4 separate regions of the Homo sapiens genome follow, and regions 2, 3 and 4 are each reported to be linked to region 1. The links are microRNA targets in miRTarBase. Many come from high-throughput screens and were not tested one by one. Region 1 holds a microRNA gene; each other region holds the end of a gene's coding sequence.
The links. Region 1 holds the annotated microRNA hsa-miR-6799-5p (GGGGAGGUGUGCAGGGCUGG, at 1,686-1,705, shown strand). A microRNA usually pairs through its seed, bases 2 to 8, with sites in the 3' UTR of a target mRNA and lowers its output. Matches are read on the target gene's strand: a 7mer-m8 pairs with bases 2 to 8, a 7mer-A1 pairs with bases 2 to 7 and ends in A, and an 8mer does both.

Region 2: the mRNA of UBE2D4 is a reported target of hsa-miR-6799-5p. Seed matches in the 3' UTR shown: 7mer-A1 at 1,702-1,708, 7mer-A1 at 2,603-2,609, 7mer-A1 at 2,635-2,641, 7mer-A1 at 2,770-2,776 and 7mer-A1 at 4,211-4,217.
Region 3: the mRNA of PCDHB11 is a reported target of hsa-miR-6799-5p. Seed matches in the 3' UTR shown: 7mer-A1 at 2,895-2,901, 7mer-A1 at 2,589-2,595 and 7mer-A1 at 2,121-2,127.
Region 4: miRTarBase lists TOX4 as a target of hsa-miR-6799-5p. Seed matches in the 3' UTR shown: 8mer at 2,652-2,659.

The regions. Positions count from the first base shown.
Region 1 is chr19:49,790,186-49,794,476 of GRCh38, forward strand. It overlaps MIR6799 (microRNA 6799), which reads left to right and starts at 1,681; the gene lies at 1,681-1,749. AP2A1 (adaptor related protein complex 2 subunit alpha 1) reads left to right here. Exons shown (of 23, transcript NM_130787.3): 5 at 1,750-1,879; 6 at 2,806-2,907.
Region 2 is chr7:43,951,753-43,956,043 of GRCh38, forward strand. UBE2D4 (ubiquitin conjugating enzyme E2 D4) reads left to right here. Exons shown (of 7, transcript NM_015983.4): 7 at 898-4,291. The coding sequence ends at 943. It also overlaps the pseudogene POLR2J4. Among named protein-coding and RNA genes, the nearest start is that of UBE2D4, 27 kb to the left of the region's middle. RefSeq lists silencers at 2,887-2,956, 2,997-3,046.
Region 3 is chr5:141,201,170-141,205,460 of GRCh38, reverse strand. It overlaps PCDHB11 (protocadherin beta 11), which reads right to left. Exons shown (of 1, transcript NM_018931.3): 1 at 1,682-4,291. The coding sequence ends at 3,293. It also overlaps PCDHB@. Among named protein-coding and RNA genes, the nearest start is that of PCDHB11, 3.7 kb to the right of the region's middle.
Region 4 is chr14:21,495,129-21,499,231 of GRCh38, forward strand. It overlaps TOX4 (TOX high mobility group box family member 4), which reads left to right. Exons shown (of 9, transcript NM_014828.4): 8 at 101-264; 9 at 1,418-4,042. The coding sequence ends at 1,478. It overlaps METTL3 (methyltransferase 3, N6-adenosine-methyltransferase complex catalytic subunit), which reads right to left. Exons shown (of 11, transcript NM_019852.5): 10 at 3,897-4,009; 11 at 3,010-3,241. The coding sequence ends at 3,130. Among named protein-coding and RNA genes, the nearest start is that of METTL3, 14 kb to the right of the region's middle. RefSeq lists enhancers at 3,544-3,633, 3,664-3,713.

The DNA of each region.
Region 1 (4,291 bases):
CTTCTCCAGCTCCTAGAGGCCACCTGCTTTCCTTGGCTCGTGGCCCCTTCCCCCATCCCCAAAGGCAGCAGTGTGGCATCTTCTCTCCTGCCTGACCTCTGTTCCATCCTCACATCATCTCTGACTCTGAACTGTATCTTTCCCTTATAAGGACCCTGTGATGACATTGGGTCCACCTGGATCACCCAGGATCCTCTCTCCATCTCATGATCCTTAACTTTATCATATCTGCAAAGTACCCCCACCCTTTTTTTTGTTTGGAGACAGGGTCTTGCTCTGCCACCCAGGCTGCAGCCTTCACCTCCCAGGCTAAAGCGATCCTCCCACCTCAGCCTGCCAAGTAGGTGGGTCTACAGGCATGCGCCACCACGCTTGGCTAATTCTCATATTTCTAGTAGAGATGGGGGTCTCACCATGTTGCCCAGGCTGGTCTCCAACTCTTGGGCTCAAGTGATTCTCCCACCTCAGCCTCCTAAAGTGCTGGGATTACAGGCGTGAGCCACCCTAACCCCCAGAACCTGTGAATATATTCCCTTGGATTCAAAAGAGCCTTGCAAAGTCTGTTCCCTCACAACAGGCAGAGGGACCCTTTAAAAACCTAAGCCAGATCAAAAATACACCCATTTTCTCAGTTTGTTGTGGAGAGAAGATAAACGTGTGAATCCACCCAGAGACCTGTGGGAGTGCTGGACAGGCCGAAGGGGTCCGGGGGCAGCTGTTCCTGCTGTCGTGTTAACATCACGCTGATTCTCTGCTCACCACCCACAGCGGCTTTCATCTCCCAATCGGTAAAAAGCCAAGTCCTCACTTCAGCCAACAAGGCCCTGCAGGGTCTGGCTCTCTGTTCCCTCCCTGTCCTATCTGCAGCCCTCCTGCCCCATGGCTCAGGCCGCAGCCTGCAGGCCTCCTTGCTGCTCCTCCTACACACGGGCTCCGCCTTCCTGATGGCCTTGGCACAGGCTGTTCCCTCTGCCTGGGATGTTCTGTTGCAGAGGATTTTCAGTCTTTCCTCCTTAAGTTACTCTGTTTTGTTTATTTTTAAATTTTTTTATTTATTTAGAGACAGCTCTAACTCTGTTGCCCAAGCTAGAGGGAGTGCAGTGGCACAGTCATGGTGCACTGCCGCCTCGACCTCCCAGTCTCGAGCAATCCTCCCACCTCACCCTCCCGAGTAGCTGGGATTACAAGCCTGCGCCACCACACCCAGCTAATTTTTGTATTTTTGAAGAGACTGGGTCTCACTGTCGCCCAGGCTGGTCTTGAATTCATGGCCTCAAGTGATCCTCCCACCTCGACCTCCCAAAGTGCTGGGATTATAGGCGTGAGCCACCATGCCCAGCCCTGACAGTATTTGATGTATGTGTTTTCGTGGTGCTGTCTGAAATGTAAGCCCTGTGAGGACAAGTGTTTGGACCACTTTATTCACCACTCTATCCATGGAGTGAACAGCAGTGCCTGGTACCCCATGGGCACCCAGTAGGTGCTTGGTGAATGAATGAAGGTGCAGAGCCAGGCTTGACATGTTCCTGAGCCCTGTGAGGTTACTGAGATGCAATCATTTTGCAGATGAAGACACTGAGTCCTGGTGGGCCGTGAGGTCAGCGCCAGACTGGATCCTGCGGCCGCCTGGCTGTCTGTCCCTCTCGCTGGCCTCGCACACCCTTCCTGGGAGGAACAGGAGAGGAGGGGAGGTGTGCAGGGCTGGGGTCACTGACTCTGCTTCCCCTGCCCTGCATGGTGTCCCCACAGGGACAGCATGGACAGTGTCAAGCAGAGTGCGGCCCTGTGCCTCCTTCGACTGTACAAGGCCTCGCCTGACCTGGTGCCCATGGGCGAGTGGACGGCGCGTGTGGTACACCTGCTCAATGACCAGCACATGGTGAGCCCCCAGCCCTCACACCCCCGGATACCCAGGGCTCCCACCTCAGCCCTGACCCCCCTGGATGCCCGGGGCTCCCACCTCAGCCCTCACACCCCCGGATACCCAGGGCTCCCACCTCAGCCCACGCACCCCCTGGATGCCCGGGGCTCCCACCTCAGCCCTCACGCCCCCGGATACCCAGGGCTCCCACCTCAGCCCTCACGCCCCCTGGATGCCCAGGGCTCCCACCTCAGCCCTCACGCCCCCGGATACCCAGGGCTCCCACCTCAGCCCTCACGCCCCCGGATACCCAGGGCTCCCACCTCAGCCCTCACGCCCCCTGGATGCCTGGGGCTCCCACCTCAGCCCTGATCCCCCTGGATTCCTGGAGCTTCCCCCTCGGCGCTGACGTTCACCAGACACCAGAAACCATGATCCAGTGTCCCCGGTACTCATTACCTGCCCAAGTGTCCAGAAACCCTCCCATCCCCATCTCTGACACTCCCCTGGCTGGCCAGGGATCCTGTCCAGTGACCCCCACACCCCTCACCAACCACCCAGTCCCTTAGAAAATCCCACTCTGTTTCTAATACCTGGAGATTCCCCCAACAGCGCCCATCACCTGCGCACCAGCGCAGAAACCTTGACTGTCCCACCCCCACAGTCCCAACCCTCTAGAGTCTCGCCCCTTCACTGCTCCTTACCCAGCTGCCTGGGGTCCTGCCAGGGACACCCCACACACCCAGGTCAGTGCTGGCCATGGCGCCCGAGGCCCCGTGGCCTCCTCACCCCACCCCTAAAGCACGCACAGTGACACATGTGCACACCCCTAAACCCCATCTTCCCGACTGCACACACATCCCGACCCTGTCCCGCTCCTGAGCCTCTGCTCTCAGGTACCACCTCCCCCAGGGGCCTGACTTGTCTCTCCTCTGCCCCTGCAGGGTGTGGTCACGGCCGCCGTCAGCCTCATCACCTGTCTCTGCAAGAAGAACCCAGATGACTTCAAGACGTGCGTCTCTCTGGCTGTGTCGCGCCTGAGCCGGGTGGGTGTGGCCTAGATATTGGCTGCTGGAGGTGGCCCTGGCATCCCTATGCCCTCTGACACCCCTCAGGCCCCCACTCTCCCTGAGAGGCAGCCCAGCCCAAGGTTTACAAACTCAGGCTCTGAGCTGGATTCATCCTGGCTCGGCCTCTTCCTGGCTGGGTGGCCCTGGACAAGTGGCTTCACCTCCCTGGCCTCAGCTGCCCCCTGTGTTCAGTGGGGATAATACCGGTGCCCACCTGGAGGCACAGAGCGCTGTGGATAGAGTGCTCAGAACAGGGCCTCGCGGGCCGAGCACCCCGGGAGCCAGCCGCCCTCATGACCTCCTCCCTCTCCCACTTCTCTCTCTGTCTCCCACTTTCCCTCTTCTGGCTTTGCCTCCCGCCTCTCTCTTTCCTGTGCAGCCTCTCACTCCTGCCTGGCGTCCCTCTCCCACCTTTGCTCCTGTCCTGCCCAGGAACATCCCCTGAGGCCTTGTGCATGCCAGGCTCCATGTCGGGTGACACCAGGGACACAGATGAGTCAGAACCAAGCTCTGCTCTTAAGGAGCTCCCTGTCCTTCTGGCAGGGAGGTGACTCAGTCACAGATTGTCAGAAAAGGGGTGACTCGTGCTATAATGGAGGTAGGATAGGTCACCCATAGGAGGCACTTAACACAGCCTGTGAGTCCACGAAGGCTTCCTGGGGGCGGCGATCCCAGAATTGAGACTTAGAATACACATGCGCATCTCCTGGGCAGTCAGGAAGAGGCCTGGATTCGCAGGCAAAGAGAAGAACACACCAGCTCGTGCATCCACTCATTGTTTCTTTTTTTTTTTTTTTTTTTTTTTTTTTGAGACGGAGTCTCGTTCTGTCCCCAGGCTGGAGTGCAGTGGCGCGATCTCGGCTCACTGCAAGCTCCCAGGTTCACGCCATTCTCCAGCCTTAGCCTCCCGAGTAGCTGGGACTACAGGCGCCTGCCACTATGCCCGGCTAATTTTTTGTATTTTTAGTAGAGACAGGGTTTCACCGTGTTAGCCAGGATGATCTCGATCTCCTGACCTCGTGATCCACCCGCCTCGGCCTCCTAAAGTGCTGGGATTACCGGCGTGAGCCACTGCGCCTGGCCCACTCATTGTTTCTTTCTCAGGTTTTTTTTTTTTTTGAGACAGGGTCTTGCTGTCGCCCAGGCTGGAGTGCAGTAGTGCAGCCATGGTTCACTGCAGCCTCTGGCTCCTAGGCTCAAGCGATCTCTCGCCTCAGCCTCCCGAGTAGCTGGGACTGCAGGTGCCTGGCTAATTTTTGTATTTTTTGTAGAGATCGGTCTTGCTTTGTCGCCCACACTGGTCTCAAACTCCTGGCTTCAAGTGATCCTCCCGCCTCAGCCTCCGAAAGTGCTGGGATTA
Region 2 (4,291 bases), not on the chromosome of region 1:
ACTCGAGCAATCTGCCCACCTAGGCCACCCAAAGTGCTGGGATTATAGGCGTGAGCCACCACACTCAGCCACATGTTTTTTTCAAATTATATTTTTCTTAAGACCTTTATAGATCTTATTATTTCCCTCATTGGAGTTTTCTCAATAACAGTCAAAATTTTTAATTGACTGGGTTTGTTTATTTTAACACTTTTTACAAGATATTTTAGACATACCAAAAGTGATTTTTTTTCAGTGCCTCTTGTAACTATAAATCTCTCTAATTTATAGTCTCATAGCATCAAGTGTCATTACAATGATGAGAGTAAGTGCACACACCTGCATAGTCTTCAATGGATGCCTGGCCTGCTCCATGTGCTTTACATACAGACTTCTCTAGTTTCCCCACAAGCACACAAGGCAGATACTTTCCCCATGGCAAGCAATCAAAAAAGCCAGGACACAGAGGGGCGGAACAGCTGCTGAGGACTGTACTGATGCACACCCCGGTAGGCAGATTCCCAAGCCCTTGTTCTGGAGTTTGTGTGCTGGACGGCCTGTAACTAGTACAAACTGACCTTTGTGTGTCTCTTCTCTGTCCTCCCTGCATCCATATTGTAGGACAGGAGAAAGAAAGGGAGGAAGTCTGTTGCATTATTAAATCTTCCACAGCAGATAGTTATGGAGAATCAACAGTTTGGGGTTTACACATGAGGGGTTCACCCAGCTGGGGGTTTACAGCCATGTCTGATGTGCTCCTGCTCCAGGGAAAGCCTTTATTCCACTCACCCATCAGCCGTAGATGTTTGACAAGCAGCAGCAGCAGCATTCCCCACATCAGTCCTGTTCTCTGCAGCACATTGAAGGGAAGTGACCATTTCAAGTGAGGGTGTCACTTCCTCTGCTTTTTTATTCCAGGTACAACAGACTAGCAAGAGAGTGGACACAAAAATATGCTATGTAAGTGCCTTGGAGGTTTTACATGAGACACTGTCCAAGAGAAGCTGGCAGAGAGGTCTTCCCTTAAAACTTTGGGCTGTTGGCTGAGCCATTCAAAGAGCATCATCTGTTCTTCAAACAAATGTTGGTCACCCACTCTCTCCAGCTGCAGCATGTTGGTGCCATTTTCAGCAATTACGGCTTTGACAGTGCCACCTCTTTGATGCCAAATCAGCAACCATTGTTGTTATGATCTGCAGTCTTCCTGGTGACACTGGAATCTCTCTCTCTGCCGCCTCAGTTTGTCTGCTGGTCTCTTGGGGGGCCAGGCCCTGCACGTCTCTCCTACCCGGCCTCAAATGGTGCTGCTGCCCATGATGGTACCACACCAGGGCCTCAGCCTGGCCCCTCACCACATACCCTTTGCCTTTTAGAACTCAGTGCCATCCTGGGTGCCCAGGGCAGAGCAGGCTTTGTTCGCACCTCATCTGCTGCAGAACCACATCCTGAGGAGTCTCAGCTTATCCTGGAGGGAATTGGGAACAGTGTCACTGGGAAGTGAAGGCCTAGCCCTGTGGCTTCCACCAGTCTCCTCCTGCAGTGCCACGTGGTGGCATTTCTCGCCTCACACCAAGAAGCAGCAAGTGGAAAATTTCAGGATACAAAGCACATAACACCCCATAAGAGATGATTATGTTTTTAGAAGCAAGAGCAAAATTATGAAACCTCTAGAGATTTGGGTCATGTTACTCCATTTGATGAAGATTCTCACTACCGCCCGCTCCTCCCATAGGAGCCTACACTAAGTCCAAGTGTGAGCCATTCACAGACTAGAACACAAGGAGGGAGAGAGACTCTTAAACGTAAATAAAAATGCAATTCACTCACAACTCTAAATGATAATTGACATTTCAGCCTCTTTCTTTTAGGCAAAACAGAAGATACACACTATTAACAGTTATTTGAAGCCTTAAATTACAATAGCCTGTTAGGTGATCGGCTTTCTGCCTTGGCTTTCTGATGCAGCACATTTTAAGATTTGCCTTTAAAGCTTTGAGCCTTGAGATTAGGTTAGTTAGGAAGAGGACAACAAAGGGAAGAGATTATTCTAATAAAACTTCCACAGAGGGAAGAAAATTGAGGAGCTTCAGATCTCTAAAGCCAAATTCAACCTGATCTTTCTAGGTTGGTTATAAAGCTGGTCCACTTCCAGGAAGTGATGTGTAGGTGAATAGGAACAAAAGGTGAAGAAGCAGTAAAACTGTGACCAAGTGGCCAGATGGGGCTTTTGCCGGCTGATTGAAAGGAAGTCTACAGACCTAACATAAGCAGTCAGCCAAAGGTGGCTGTGGGAGGTTGATTTCTTCCAGAAACTTCCAAGTTGTGGCTACAAATTTATTGCCAGATATTTTCCCACTGAGAATACTGAGGTTATTCACATAATCACTTCCTTAACAAAGGAAGAAGCACTTTTAACTTGGGCTGCATTCCCTTTGTGAGGGTCCACATTTAGGATCCTCCTGCTACCATAAGGCCCCTTTTGGGGTTCTTTGGGTGTGGCTGCATCTCACCATGTTGAGGATTGCCTTTTTTTTTTTTTTTTTTTTTTTTTTTTAACACAGAGCCTTGCTCTGTCTCCCAGGCTGGAGTGCAGTGGTGCGATCTTGGCTCACTGCAACCTCTGCCTCCCAGGTTCAAGCAATTCTCCTGCCTCAGCCTCCCAAGTAGCCGGAATTACAGGCATGTGCCACCATGCTGGGCTAATTTTTGTATTTTTAGTGGAGACGGTGTTTCACCATGTTGGCCAGGCTGTTCTTGAACTCCTGGCCTCAAGTGACCCGCCCACATTGGCCTCCCAAAGTGCTGGGATTACAGGCGTGAGCCCCCGTGCCCAGCAAGGATTGCTGTTTTAATTCTTGTATCTTCGTTGCTTCTTTGGTCTTTGCTTAAACAAAACAATAAAGCTTAATAGTTGGGGAGAATGCTGTTACCAGTGTCCTCTAGGAAGGCTGTTAGCATATGGCTCTACTGAGCAGCAGTGCCATCTGGTGCCTGAGATCATGTGCTTCAGGCAGTTGTCACACTGCATCTACAGCCAAGCATCACAGAAACACTTCACTCATGTGGTCAGGGAAGGTGGGACTGATTCACATGTTAGAGACAGGTCAGATGGGAAAATTAAGGCCCAACTTGGTGTTGGGGAATAACCATACTCTGGTCTTTCAAGTGTAGTAGCTGATGATTCCCAAGAAACTGATGAATTTTCTGAGTCCAGACAAAATTTCCCCAAGCCTGCTCTCTCTGTTGGATATACATAATAGAGAAAGTCAAATCAGCCCTTTGGGGTTTGTGGTAAAAATTCACTCACCCATTGAAGCCTAAGGTGGCTTTGTACCTTCCAGATCTCTCAGCAAATCCCCTGGGCAGAAATGTCACCTGCTTGCCATGTCTTTGAGGGGTTCAGGTCAGCCTGGAGAACAGGCTCCTTAGGTCAAAAACCTTGTTTTAAGAGCCACTGTGGTACAGTCAATGTAACCCACTTGTGCAGAAGCCATGCTTCCAAGGAAGGTCTCAGGTTGACAACTAGACATCAAATCTGAGAAGCCAACTGTGGAGTAATGTGTTTTTTTCTCTGTGGACAAGAGTGATCAGAAAGGTGCTTGATCTTGAACAATTGATCCATGATGAAAAAATGACCATTAGCTCTCCCCCAGAAGCGTCTGTGTTTGCTGAATGGAGCTGAGATTTTGATCCGCTATCAGACTCCAGAAAGATCCAGGAGTTCCAAGAACATGGCAAAGAGTCAAAATCTTAGGACAAGGAATTAAAATGCCAGAATGCAAATGTCCAACAGGCCTGGTAGCTCACAGCTATCAACACCCTAGAATTCCACACTGCCTCACTGCAGTTGCTCAAGGATGGGTATGTTTCTGTCTCTGAAATTCGGGAAAAAGCCTTAAGTGCCAGAGAAGGTGCTTCCAAGACTGTCTGCAGAATTCCTTTCCTAGGGTCTGTCTCTGGTACCCAAAAGGGCAGAGAAGGAACCCTAAGATTAGCATAGAGCCACTCATCTCTCCTCCCCTCCCCACCCCTTCTTCCCCTGCTTCCATTCCCCATGGCTCTCTCCTCTGACTGTGAAACACTTCCTCTCCAGCAGTGTTGGGAAAGTTCTGGACCTCTACTGGATCTAGCCATAAATGGTGGTCTTCAGAAAAATGGAGATTGTGGCTGCCAGCACCCACAAGACAGCAGCCTCATGCCATGCAGGCAGCAAGCCATCCTGAACAGCGTTCCTCCCAGAGTCTGTTTCCTCACCTGCTGTTCACTGGTGAGAGGAAAAGGGACTTGTTCTCCCTTGACCAGTTTTCTAGTT
Region 3 (4,291 bases), not on the chromosome of region 1:
GGAATTTTTTTCAATGCTCACAGAAAGAAAGAAAAAAAGGGGGGGAATCACATAAAAAGACATAGGAATCAGAATGGAATCAGTCTTCTGAACAGCAATTCTATATGCAGTCAATAAAAGGAGCAGTGCTTTTGAAATCTGAGGGAAAATTATTTTCAACCTAGAATGTTATGCCCAAACTATCAATCAAATAAAAAAAAAGAAAATAACAAAGCAAGCTCTCAAAAAGTTTTATTTCCTCTGTATCCATTTTTATGAAGGTACTGAGAGATGTGCATCAACAAAATAAGTGAGTAAACTAAGAAAGAAGAATGTACTGGATCTTATAAAAAAGGACCAACAAAGAAAAATATTTTTTAAAGTCCTAGGGTGACAGCCTATAGAGCAACCAGTATGAATGAAGTAGAGATCTGGGTGCAAGATCACCAAGAAATAAACATAATTGACAGGTATCTGATATATTTGAATATTTTGAGAAGAAAGAGATTCAAATTAGAGAATGTAAAGAAACTAATATTAGTAAATGGAAAATTATGTAAGTACAAAACAATTTTCAGTTCTAGGAAAAATGTTTCTCAAGAAAGGAAATTTAATCACACTACACTAATGTGTATTTTGAAGAAAGCTTAGCAATATGGACACTATTAGTTTAACTTAAAAAAAACTGTAGGCTGGGCACTGTGGCTCACGCCTGTAATCTCAACACTTTGGGAGGCTGAGGCAGGAGGATCAGCTGGGGTCAGGAGTTCAAGACAAGCCTGGCCAACATGGTGAAACCCCATCTCTACTAAAGCTACAAAACTAGCCAGGTGTGGTGGTGGGTGCCTGTAATCCCAGCTATTCAGGAGGCTGAGGCAGGAGAATCACTTGAACCTGGGAAGCAGAGGTTACAGTGAGCTGAGATCACACCACTGTACTCCAACCTGGGCGACAGAGTAAGACTCTGTCAAAAAGAAAAAAAAAACTGTAACAATTTTATTGGGAGAATAGGAGAAAGGGAATGTGCAGTGCTTATATTGGTTTACATTAGTTGAAAAGAAAGTTAAATCTTTTTTAAAAAATACATAGCAAGAAGTGATTAAAATGTAAAATGGAGTAGCAAGATTTAACAGCAAAAACATATCATTTAGAAGTATTGAGGTAATTCTAGAAGAAGCCACTCAATAGAAGGAGACTGGAAATTAAAGAAAATATTGTTCTGTTCTTTTCTTTTCTTTCTTTCTTTTTTTTTTTTTTTTTTTTTTTTTTGAGACGGAGTATCGCTCTGTCACCCAGGCTGGAGTGCAGTGGCAAGATCTTGGCTCACTGCAACCTCTGCCTCCTGGGTTCAAGTGATTCTCCTGTCTCAGCCTCCTGAGTAGCTGGGATTATAGGCACGCACCACCACACCCAGCTACTTCTTGTATTTTTTAGTGTAGATGGGGTTTCACTGTGTTGGCCAGGCTGGTCTTGAACTCCCAACCTCAGGTGACCCGCCCGCCTCAGCCTTCCAAAGTGCTGAGATTACAGGTGTGATCTAACCCACCCAGCCAAGCCACTGAGGCAGGCCTTGTTTTTCTTTCAACCTTTAGTTCATCTTGATTTTTACATTTGAAAATAATGAAATAAATTTACAAAATAAAAGGAAAAGTGAATATCTTTCCAACAGTCCACCAATATCCTCATCCCAAAATTATCAAAATGTTTTAATATTCCTATTTATTTTCATGCAGTTTATTACATTTTGTTTGGATTATAAGCCATGATCTCTCTCTCTCTCTATATATATATATACACACACAAAAGCATTAAAAATATTAGCCAAGTAAGTGTAGTATATTTAAGAAAATAATACAAGCACAAAGTTAGTATTGAAGTATAATATTGATCACAAAATAATATTTAATTTACCATGAGCACATTAATAATGAAATGTTTCTCTTTAAATGCTGTGATTTAGAACTAGATGATGTGGCTTTTTAAATGAATAAATAGAATGTTAGAATAAGGTTGGAAGGGCAGATATGACTTCTCCCATGAAGAAACTACAATACACAGGTGGTTAGGATCATAGGATGCAGACAGTGAAAAATACTAGGGGAGCCTGGGCACGGTGGCTCACGCCTGTAATCCCAGCTTTTTGGGAGGCTGAGGCGGGCGGATCACTGATATCAAGAGTTAGAGACCAGCCTGACCAACATGGTGAAACCCCGTCTCTACTAAAAATGCAAAATTAGCTGGGTGTGGTGGTGCACCTGTAATCCCAGCTACTCGGGAGGCTGAGGCAGGAGAACCCGGGAGGCAGAGACTGCAGTGAGCCGAGATCACGCCATTGCACACCAGCCTGGGCGACAAGAGTGAAACATCGTCTCAAAAAACAAAACAAAACAAAACAACCTAAGAGAAAAATCAAAGTCAGTTTTCTAGAATAAGAAATAATAATCAGTAAATTATTGTACACTTGGAAAGGATTAAAACCTTAAAATTATTCATTAGAAATGGATTAACTACCTGTTACTTAATATAAAAAGGATTTACAATGTTATTCACAATGATATGCAATACTTGAAAATTGAAAATAGGCCTGGCCGCCTGTAATCCCAGCACTTTGGGAGGCTGAGGGGAGTGCATCTCTTGAGCTCAGAAGTTAAAGGCCAGCCTAAGAAATATGGTGACGATCCGTCTCTACAAAAAATACAAGAAGTAGCCGGGCATGGTGGCGCACGCCTGTAGTCCCAGCTACTTGGAGGCGGAGGTGGGCTGGTCTCTTGAGCCCAGGAGGCAGAGGTTGCAGTGAGCTGAGATCCTGCCACTGACCTCTAGTCTGGGTGACTAAGACTCTGTATCAAAAAAAAGAAAAGAAAAGAAAAAAAAAAGGCCGGGCGCAGTGGCTCACACCGGTAATCACAGCACTTTGGGAGGCCGTGGCGGGTGGAACATGAGGTCAAGAGTTTAAAACCTGCCCGGCCAACGTGGTGAAACCCCGTCTCTACTAAAGATAAAAAAAAAAAAAATTTAGCCGAGCGTGGTGGTGGGCGCCTGTAATGCCAGCTACTCGGGAGGCTGATGCAGGAGAATTGCTTGAACCCGAGAGGCGGAGGGTGCAGTGAGCTGAGATCACACCATTGCACTCCAGCCAGGGCGACAGAATGAGACTCGGTCTCAAAAAAAAAAAAAAAATTGGGGGAGAAAAGAAAAAATTAAAAATACAATTAGTCGTATTGCATAATAACGTAACTAGTTTAAGACTAAATAATATTGATATGGTTACATAAAACTAAAAAAGTACATGCAAATGTAAATAGCATTCTTACTAAAAATTAAATCCAAAGCTATTTCGAAAGGTGGAGTTTTCTTCACTATTCTTCCCAAGACCTTTTGCCTGGATATTAGGGATAACCGGTTTTAGGAACTTGAATTCATTTGTCTCGGAACCTCCCGTCAGACACACCTCGTACTGGTAGCTCTGGGAAAGGGTCCCGGTGCCGCTCACGTCCACCAGATGCCCTGGAAAGGGGCCCTTAGGCACCGAGCAGCTTCCCACCGAGGCCGCCCTGCTCCTCCTGCACAGCCGCACCGCCACGAACAGGAGCACCGAGAAGAGGAAGAGCGAAGACACCGAGGCCAACGCCACCACCAAGTAGACGGTGAGCGAGTCGGCCTGGGCCTGGGCCGGTGCCGCCTCAGGGAGCGGCAGGTAGGGCTGGGAGAAGCCGTCCACCAGGAGCACTTGCAGCGTGGCGGTGGCCGAGCGCGGAGGCTCGCCATTGTCCTTGACCAGCACCACCAGCCTGTGCTTGGCCGCGTCGCGCTCGCTCAGCAGCCTGGCGGTGCGCACCTCGCCATTGTGCGCCCACACGCCGAATAGCCCGGGCTCCGTGGCCTTGAGCAGCTGGTACGACAGCCAGGCGTTCTGGCCCGAGTCGCCGTCCACCGCCACCACCTTGGTCACCAGGTAGCCCGGCTCGGCCGCCCGGGGCACCAGCTCGGTGCAGGGCGCGGAGCCGTTCTGCAGCGGGTACAGCACGAAGGGCGAGTTGTCGTTGGCGTCCAGCACCAGCACGCGCACCAGCGCCTCGCTGCTCAAAGCCGGGGAGCCGCGGTCTGTGGCGCCCACGCGGAAGTCGAAAGCCTGCAGGGCCTCGTAGTCCAGCGACCTGAGGGCGAACAGGTGGCCGTTGTCTGTGTTGATGGAGACCAGGGAGGCGAGGGGCAGGTGCAGGTCCTGGGGCGGGAGTAGCGAGTAGTTGACCTGGGCGTTGGTGCCTGAGTCTCTGTCTGTAGCGCTGACACTGCCGATGTGCAGGGCGGG
Region 4 (4,103 bases), not on the chromosome of region 1:
AATACCTGTTGCTTCATTGGTTTCTACAGATAATTTAGCTAACTAGCTAGCTAGGCAGGGAGCAATCTAATCCACCTTGGTACTCTTCTTCTTCTCACAGGTTGAGTCTCCTTCTCAGATGGATGTTGAATTGGTGAGTGGGTCTCCTGTGGCACTCTCACCCCAGCCTCGATGTGTGAGGTCTGGTTGTGAGAACCCTCCCATTGTGAGTAAGGACTGGGACAATGAATACTGCAGCAATGAGTGTGTGGTGAAGCACTGCAGGTGAGCTTACAGTTCTCCCTTTTATAATTCAGCTACTGGTCAATTCTACTGGGAAACATAGGAATCTTGAGCATAAAATCAGCATCTCAGTGTCACCTTACCTTAGGTAGAGTAGGTTGCTGTATCTGGTCTACTAGAAAAGCTCCCCTGCTTAAGAGCTTACATTTGCCACATAAGCCAAAGATGATGTAATCAGCAGTTCACATTTTTCAGTTACCACATACCTCTCTTATGTATGCTCTTTAAAAATATAATACATTAAGCTGTTAGTGTTTGCAAATATTAGCTTTTCAATTCTTGGTGCAAATCAGACTACTTAGGGAACTAGAATTTGGGGAGAAATGGTAAGTGGAAAGTAACACATAATAATTTGCAATTTGTGAAGGAAATGGGGAGATGGTTGGAATATTTTACCCCTCTCCCCAAATTTTCCTGGGAATTTCCTATAGCTGTAGGACAAGGCATTTCTATTTCCTATTTCAAAAACTCTGCAGTAAATTAGCATTGCCTCTACTTCTGACTTTTAAGCCCACTGTTCTTATATTTTCAAGGTGATACTATCTCACCATAATGCTGTAGGAAATTATCTGGGAACCTATTTGTTTAAGACAGATAAAAAATCCAGCTGGGCCATACAGTGAAACCCCATCTCTACTAAAAATACAAAAATTAGCCGGGCATGGTGGCAGGCACCTGTAGTCCTGGCTACTCAGGAGGCTGAAGCAGGAGAATCTCTTGAACCTGGGAGGTGGAGGTTGCAGTGAGCCAAGAAGATCACGCCACTGCACTCCAGCCTGGGCAACAGCGAGACTCCATCTCAAAAAAAAAAAAAAAAAGATAAAAAGAATGTAGCGGCCGGGCGCGGTGGCTCACGCTTGTAATCCCAGCACTTTGGGAGGCCAAAGCGGGCGATTCACGGGGTCAGGAGATCAAGACCATCCTGGCTAACACAGTGAAACCCTGTCCCCACTAAAAATACAAAAAATTGGCCGGGCATGGTGGTGGGCACCTGTAGTCCCAGCTACTCGGGAGGCTAAGGCAGGAGAATGGCGTGAACCCATGAGGTCCGTCTCAAAAAAAAAAATGTATCTAGGCTGTAATTCTATTTCAGTTTGTGTATAATTCTGTTTGTGTATGTCTTTTTCTCTCTTAGGGATGTATTCTTGGCCTGGGTAGCCTCTAGAAATTCAAACACAGTGGTGTTTGTGAAATAGTCCTTCCTGTTCTCCAAGCCAGTGAAGAGTTATCTGCTGGGAAAGTGTCCAAGAGCCTGTTTTTGAAACACAAGCTGGGCTTCTGGTAGTGCCTCATCACAACCCATGATGGCTGTTCATGTTTCACCCCTTTTCTTCCTTCAGCAGAGGCCAGGCTATGGAGCAGGGCCACTGAATTTGCTGTAATCTGGAGATGCTTTTTACTTTCAACCATAAGCGGTAATAGCAGAGGAAAGGGTGAAGGGAGTCTGGGCAAGCAAAGCATAGAGATGGTGGGGTGGTGGTGGGGTTGAAGAAACTTGTTGGTATAATTGTCATAGGACTTGCCTAAAATATTATTAAAATTACGGGAGTGTACTCAGCTTTGAGCCTAGGAGAAAATGCCACTGTGTGCATCCATTTTAAAGGGTTCCCTCATAAAAAAATGTTATTCCCCATTATCACATCAGTACACTGCTTTGAAAACAAAACTTTTCAACATGGGCATACTGGGCTACATGGAAAATGACATCACCCAGGAGTGATTTCTCTTTATATATATTATTTCTGCAGTTACCATCCTTATCTGAGTTATCACAGTTCATGAATCTAAGAGGCGGAACTCTACATCATTAGTAAGAGGTTCCACCAAAGTCTAAAGTTGTATTCACTTGTGTTTGATGAACTATCTTTAAAAGACCATAGGTCTATCATTATTTCTTAGACATAATCTAAAGAAAAACAGACTAGAGAAGCCACCTGGTTGTAACAGAATAAGCAGAAGTTTACAGCATGATAGTCCAAGTGGTGATAACTTTAAATAAAACTCAAATTTTTACTGTTTGTAGACAGGAATGCTGTCCTAGAGAACCTCCTCCTCAACCAGCTACGTACATAGTTTTATCCTATGCATTCCTGTTTTCTGTGTGTTTTTTGTTTTTTTTTTTTTTTTTTTTTTTTGAGACAGAGTCTCGCTCTGTCACCCAGGCTGGAGTGCAGTGGTGCGACCTCAGCTCACTGAAACCTCTGCCTCCCGGGTTCAAGCGATTCTCCTGCATCAGCCTCCCGAGTAGCTAGGATTACAGGCGCCCGCCACTACGCCCAGCTAATTTGTGGTATTTTTAGTAGAGACAGGGTTTCACCATGTTGGCCAGGCTGGTCTCGAACTCCTGACCTCATGATCCGCCCGCCTTGACCTCCCAAAGTGCTGGGATTACAGGCATGAGCCACCGCACCCAGCCTGCATTCCTGTTTTTTTAATGGTTTTGGAGGGTAGCAGTAGAGATGGGGTCTCACTATGTTGCCCAGTCTAGTCTTGAACTCCTGGGCTACAGTTACCCTCCTACCTCGGCTTCCCAAAGTGCTCGGATTACAGGTGTGAGCCACTGTGCCTAGCCTATAATGATCATTTTAATGTTTCCCATGCACTCATTTAGTTTGAACCTTCACAGCAACCCAATGAGGTAATACTCCCATTTCACATATAATACTGAGAGATGAGTTGCACAAGATTATACACTGTTAAGTAGCAGAGCCAGAATGGACTTCAGAATCCCAACTACAATACAAATGTTTATTTAAATAAAGAAGAAAGCTATTGTACAAATATCACTCTTCAGGTTTAGCTTACAGAGCCATGGCTATGGATTCTTAGCTCTGTAAGGAAGTGCTTCTATAAATTCTTAGGTTTAGAGATGATACCATCTGGGTACCTTTGCTTGAACCGTGCAACCACATCTGGGTCTAGTAGGTGGATCCCATCCAGTTGGTTTCCAAGGGTGATCCTGAAACAGTGTAAAAGGAGGGGCAAACCAGAAATCCTGGAATTAGAGGGTTTAATATTGTTAAAAAATGCATACCAAATGAAGACTGCCTATCATCATATCAAATATGCCAATTCTAAAAAGAGCTTAACATTAGAATAGTATATGGTAGAATTACTAGTTCAGAATTGGCATAGATTCTGGTGTTAAAATAGACTGGATCTGTATTATCTGAGGGTTAGTAACTAATGCTTAGCCAGGCCTGCTTCACAGAGTTGCTACCAGGGAGTATTCTTTGGATAAGCAAAATGCTAGCAGCATGTGTTTTAAGCTCTGTTAAGGGGTGAAAGATGTAATTATTGACAGATTAAATAGATAACTTCGTAACCACCAGGGGGCAGATTCAATACATCACAGAATGGCTGAGGAAGATCCTTGGGTTGTGAAGAGAGTAGAAACCCTAGGGAGCAGTGCTTTTGGGTCCTAGAACCTGTTGAGTTTCTAATGAATATTTGTAGAATCTCATAAAACAGTTTAAATACAAGCTTAAGTGGCTTATGAATCCTGTGAAGCTCATTTATGGACTAGTGTAAAACAATGTGAAGCTCTACTAAGTTCTGTCCTTAATCATAAATAATAGCCCCTTGAGGACTAGCCTGTTCTCTGGTCACCTTACCAGTTGGGTTGCACATTGTGTGGTCGTCCAAATAACTCAATCTTGCGAGTGCCAGGAGATAGTCTTTCAATCATGCCATAGATTTCATCTGGTTTATGACTGGTGGAACGAACCTAGGAAATAAAAACTAGCTGCTTTTTAAGTTACACAAGATTGCAATTCTAGCCCTTTCTATTATGTTTATGATCTAAATGAGAAAAATCTGGG